Homo sapiens: one gene and its partner. The protein of the gene in region 1 purifies or fractionates together with the protein of each later gene. This does not show direct contact. Each region holds a gene or a part of one and is shown in the gene's direction. Other genes may lie near its edges.

Evidence for each region. The genes of interacting proteins can lie anywhere in the genome.
Region 2: the proteins of TBCC (region 1) and NTM purify together in Homo sapiens (affinity purification with mass spectrometry; one large-scale study listed by BioGRID and IntAct). This does not show direct contact.

What each region holds. Positions count from the first base shown.
Region 1 is NC_000006.12:42,743,998-42,747,370, reverse strand, and holds TBCC (tubulin-specific chaperone C), read left to right. Parts: upstream 1-1,267; 5' UTR 1,268-1,297; coding exon 1,298-2,338; 3' UTR 2,339-2,873; downstream 2,874-3,373. UniProt on the Homo sapiens protein: Tubulin-folding protein; involved in the final step of the tubulin folding pathway.
Region 2 is NC_000011.10:132,332,615-132,334,968, forward strand, and holds part of NTM (neurotrimin isoform 9 precursor), read left to right. Parts: exon of another isoform or gene 1-149; intron 150-2,354.

The sequences.
Region 1 (3,373 bases):
AGGCTGGGAACTGGGGATATAAGGAGGAAACCTAGGGTTGGAAGGGCGGGCAGGGTTAAAGAGGTTCGGGAGCTCCGCAGATCTGAGCGAAGCATGCGAGGCTGCCGCGCCCGGGCAGCGGCTGCGTCTCGGGTTCTCGCCCTGCCCGCTGCCTCGGGTTTTTGCCAGTGACTGCGCCGTCTTGGCTGCCCACCCACACCTCGGGTTGGTCCCGACTTTAGGCTAGGCCATTCACTTCCGGTGACAAATCCCTCCCACCACCCCTAGAAATAATGTACCGCTTCTCCCACCGCTTTCCTAAGACCGACCGCCCCAGAGAGCCACGGAGCCCGGGGCTAGGGTCTCACCCCAGCGCGGCCGGCGACGCCCAGCTGCGGAGGGAGTGGCCGGGACCGAGCTCGGGGAGGGCAGGGAAGAAAGAGGAAGGGGGTGTGGATCTCACCTTCCCCCGCCCCCACCCCTCCGACTGCAGCAATTGGCCAAAAAAATAGTAATCCTTTTATGGACTCCCCCAGGGCCCCTCGAACCAGGTTGCAGTGAGGAACCCAGTCTCTCCCATCGCAGTGCCCCTTGCCTTCTCCTGCCCTAGTAACTGCCTGCGGGGATCCAGGAGCCCCCAGGCCGCGCCGAACTGCAGTGGATAGGGGGGAGGGGGGCGGTAAGGATGAGGGCTACGGGGAGGCAGAAATGGGTTGGGGGAAGGGGTGGTGGAAGGGAAAAGAAAAAACCGGAGGCATGCAAGCGGCTCCCCAGCCAGCTGTTCCAGCTGCTGCTTCCTCCGGCGCGGGCCAGGCGGTGCAATATTCCCCCCCGCTCCATCTTTCTCACCACTACCTGTCCCCCCAACCCACCACACGCACTCATCCCTCCCACCCACACCCCTAGTAGCGGATCTCCGGCCTGTAAGGGGGTAGTAGGGAGGAGCTGGGGGGAGGGGGAGGCCTGCGAGTTTCTAACCTTGTTCTTATAAACAAACCCACATGTGCAGCTGCCGCTGCTGCAACTCACCCCACAATCCCGGATATAAGTCCTGCCCCTTTAAGAGGAAAAAAAAGATTCCCCCGCCTGCCTCCCACCCCACCCATCCACAAGAACCTTTGTCTTCCCACCCCCATAGTCAGTCGGCCCCGCCCCATCTCCCCGCCCCCTCCGACGCAGAGGAACCAATAGGCGAAGAAAATAAGGCCGGGGATCTGACATCATCATGTTAGGCCAATCACCGGACGCGTTGGTGGGAGGCCTCACGGACAGCGCGCCCGGAGGAAGGAAGACAAGAGAGAGGAAGCTTGAAGCCAATATGGAGTCCGTCAGTTGCTCCGCTGCTGCTGTCAGGACCGGAGACATGGAGTCCCAGCGGGACCTGAGCCTGGTGCCTGAGCGGCTTCAGAGACGCGAACAAGAACGGCAGCTGGAAGTTGAAAGGCGGAAACAAAAGCGGCAGAACCAGGAGGTAGAGAAGGAGAACAGCCACTTTTTCGTCGCCACCTTTGTTCGGGAGCGAGCGGCCGTGGAAGAGCTTCTGGAGCGCGCGGAGTCGGTCGAGCGGCTGGAGGAGGCGGCCTCTCGGCTCCAGGGGCTGCAGAAACTAATCAACGACTCAGTTTTTTTCCTAGCCGCTTACGACCTGCGGCAGGGACAAGAGGCGCTGGCGCGGCTGCAGGCGGCCTTGGCCGAGCGGCGCCGGGGGCTGCAGCCCAAGAAGCGTTTCGCTTTCAAGACCCGGGGAAAGGATGCTGCTTCGTCTACCAAAGTAGACGCGGCTCCTGGCATCCCCCCGGCAGTTGAAAGCATACAGGACTCCCCGCTGCCCAAGAAGGCGGAAGGAGACCTCGGCCCCAGCTGGGTCTGCGGTTTCTCCAACCTGGAGTCCCAAGTCTTGGAGAAGAGAGCCAGCGAGTTGCACCAGCGCGACGTTCTTTTGACCGAACTGAGCAACTGCACGGTCAGACTGTATGGAAATCCCAACACCCTGCGGCTAACCAAGGCCCACAGCTGCAAGCTGCTCTGCGGTCCGGTGTCTACCTCTGTTTTCCTGGAGGACTGCAGTGACTGCGTGCTGGCAGTGGCCTGCCAACAGCTCCGCATACACAGTACGAAAGACACCCGCATCTTCCTGCAGGTGACCAGCAGGGCCATCGTGGAGGACTGCAGTGGGATCCAGTTCGCCCCTTACACCTGGAGCTACCCGGAGATCGACAAGGACTTCGAGAGCTCTGGTTTAGATAGGAGCAAAAATAACTGGAACGATGTTGACGATTTTAACTGGCTGGCCCGGGATATGGCCTCCCCAAACTGGAGTATTCTTCCTGAAGAGGAGCGAAATATCCAGTGGGACTAAGCAGTTGTCACTCTGTTCTTCACTCCTACCAAATACTTTCCACGTTGGACTTTCCCCCTTATTGGGTCTCGAAGTTTACTTATTGTCACACTGTGTATGTTTTCAGCATTTTAAGGCTAGAGATTGTAATGGGCTCCTACTTGTAATTTCCATTAAATTCGTAACAGGTATAACACTAAAGCATTTTTGCTATTTTCGTCATGCCTTTGAGACTGAGTCTTACTCCGTCCCCCAGCGTGGTGGCGCGCTGGGATTACAGGCGCGCGCCACCACGCGAACTTGTATTTTTAGTAGAGACGGGGTTTCGCCATGTTGTCCGGGCTGCTCTCGAACTCCTGACCTCAGGTGATCCACCCGCTTCAGCTTCCCAAAGTGCTGGCATTACAGGCGTGAGCCACCACGCCAGGGCTTTATTTATTTATTTTTACCACAATAGTTTGAAGCAGTAAGGGGGAAGGAGGGTGATTATATTGCTTTGTAATGGTTTGTGATACTTGAAACATCACGGTGCATAATAAAGTAGGTCTGCAGTAAATACATGGGTTTGTTTGGTGTGTGTGTGTGTGTGTGTGTTTTGTTTTTAAAGAGATGGGCTCTCCTTATGTTGCCCAGGCTGGTTTCGAACTCCTGACCTCAAGCAATTCTCCTGCCTCAGCCTCCCAAAACACTCGGATTATAGACAGTAACCAGCAGTGTCAGGGTATAGATACATATTTAATAAATTCCAGAGCTGAGCCCGGGGGCTCACGCCTGCAATCCCAGCACTTTGGGAGGCTGAGGTGGGCAGATCACTTGAGGTCAAGAGTTGGAGACCCGGTGCCAGGTGAAACCCCGTCTCTACTAAAAACACAAAAATTAGCCGGGCATGATAGTTCACACCTGTAGTCCCAGCTACTCAGGAGAACTGCTTGAACCTGGGAGACAGGTTGTCGTGAGCTGACATCACGCCACTGCACTCCAGCCTGTGTGGCAGAGTGAGACACTGTCTCAAAAACAAAAAACCATAGGTAATTCCTTTGTCCCTAGACATTCAGT
Region 2 (2,354 bases), on another chromosome or scaffold:
GGAGACCAAACACAGGCACCCAGGGAGAGCGCCTGGCATAGCCACAGGGCCATTGAGATCTGCCACAGGGGGTGTTTGCCCGCTCTCAGTCGTCTCCCGAGCTGCAGAGTCCCCAGCCTGGAAACAAGGTTTCAGCATTCCCTTACATGGTAACTACGCCAGGCCCCTGCTGGGCTGAACACCTGGCTGTGGCATTCTCCTCCCTGGAGGCTTCCACTGGCAGGTCAGGCTGCAAGGAGGGAGTTCAGAAGAGAGGAGAGAACACCTCAGTGCAGGGAAGCGGCACTTGTTTTCCATCTCTTACCCAGGGCATCTTCTTAGTCACAGGGAGGGAGCGGGAGACGGGAGGTGGGAGTGTGCGGGAATTGAACAGGAAATGGGTTTCAAAGATGTGTGTGGATGTTCAGGAGAGCACAAGGGATGAAAGAGGCAGAGCAGTGTGCTGACAGCTGTGTCCCCTGCCGGGAGTTAAGGACTCCAGTGTGCAGGACACGTATGGAATTGTACGGTGTGATTCACGCATATGAAGCTATCTTCATATGAATGTGAACACTCACAGTGTTGAGGCAAAACATTCGACCTGGCTTCCATAAAGGCCTGCTGGGCCATATGGACTCAGAACCACCCTTGTCGTCTCAGAGTCCTCAGCCTCGGGCACAGACAAGGGCCTTGGTTGGAAGAATCTTGGAGTTGCCTAGAGGGGAAGGACTTACGCAGAGCAGAGAAACATAGTCTCTCACCCTTGAAGGCATCCGGCGGAGGCTTCTCTCCTTTGATTCCAAAGAATGTGCTCTGTAGATGACAGAGTGAGCATCTACAAAGGGGGAACGTCTGGTGATGGTTTCTGTGGACACATAGTAGTTAGATTCTAGAAGACACAACCAGTTAGTGACCGATCCTAAATGACAAGCATTTCTGGGTTGAGATTTAAATCCGCAGGAGCTTTACAGGAGTGCTCCTTGGTCACCTGTATCCTAGCACAGATGCCTTTGGTTTTGTGTTTTCTCCTTAATGCAGGGTAGAGAGAATAAGTATCCCCTGGGCTTCTCAGCATGGGGATCTGCACCTCTGAGAAGTTCCGGCCTTAGGGATACTGTGAATCAGACACCAGGGAAACATGAGGTTGATGACCTATTGCATTTCAATCTCATGGCTACCTATTTAGCCACGCCCCCAAATTAGGGATTTATCCCAAAAGGCCAAGACATAAAATCATATGGGCACTGCCTCCTAGCCAGGAGTTCTAGACTTGATGGAATAATCCCACATGGAATTGAGAAGCCTGTTTTGATTTTGATTTGTTTTAGCCAGAAATGTATCCAACGCTGAGCATCCAAGTCAGGCAGGCAGGTTCTGGCTTTGTTCCTTGTTCCCTAATCCAGGAAGACATGGACTTAGTGAGGCCACCAGCTTTAAATACCTCTATTAAATTCAATGCAACAGAGTATGCCAGAGCAGGTCCAGTCTGAGGAGGTGGCCTGGTTCCTTGAGTAGCTAATTCATCTGGGCATCCAAACTTATGTACTCTACAGAAATCAAAGCTCCACTGGTCATGGGGTTTCTTGGCCACAAGGGCCGAGGTAGCCAGAAAACGTATGTTTCAGAACAATAGGGAAGCTGCTGGGGAACTGTACTGCCTTGCAGTTCTCCTGCCTCCTGTGTTTGTCTCCATCTCCATACACTGGGGCAGGTTCTGCATCCCAGTGTCCTCATTGATCTCCAGTTACATCCACATGCACAGGAAGGCTTCCTGTTCCTTTGTTTGACTCACCTCCATCCATGTGGGCTGGCTTCGGCCTTGCAGGCATGTGATCCTTGAGCTGCATCTGCTCTTACCCCATCCAGATGGGGAAGAGGTCAAGTGCTCCAGGTGGAACCCAGGTGCCCTGCCCTGAGATAGAGTGATTGGCAGGATGGCCTCTGTGCCCAAGGAAGCAGAAGCAGCAGGCAGACACATTGTTTTGTCCAACAGGTTCTTTTCTGAGCCACAGGCCAAGCAGCTGGAGGGTGGGTGAGTATTTCAGGCAGGCAGTGCTCAGAAGTGGATGGGTGATGAGGCACTCAGCACAGTAGTCTGACTTTATTAAAGCTCTGTGTAGGATATTAATGAATCTGCCACCTTCTTCTTGAATTTGAGCCTGAGCCATGGCCTTTGCATGTTATGACACAGTAAGGAAGAAGGCCCAGGACACTTTAACCTGAGCCTCATGTTCTCTCCTTGCAGGGGAAGGCTTCCCGTTATCTAGTGTGTGTGTCTTGGGGATGTGGGCCATAGAACGTTCACTTCTAATGCTGGGGCTGGAACACCATGTGTTTCACTTAGAGGGATGACTCACCAGGGGCAAGGCCAAATG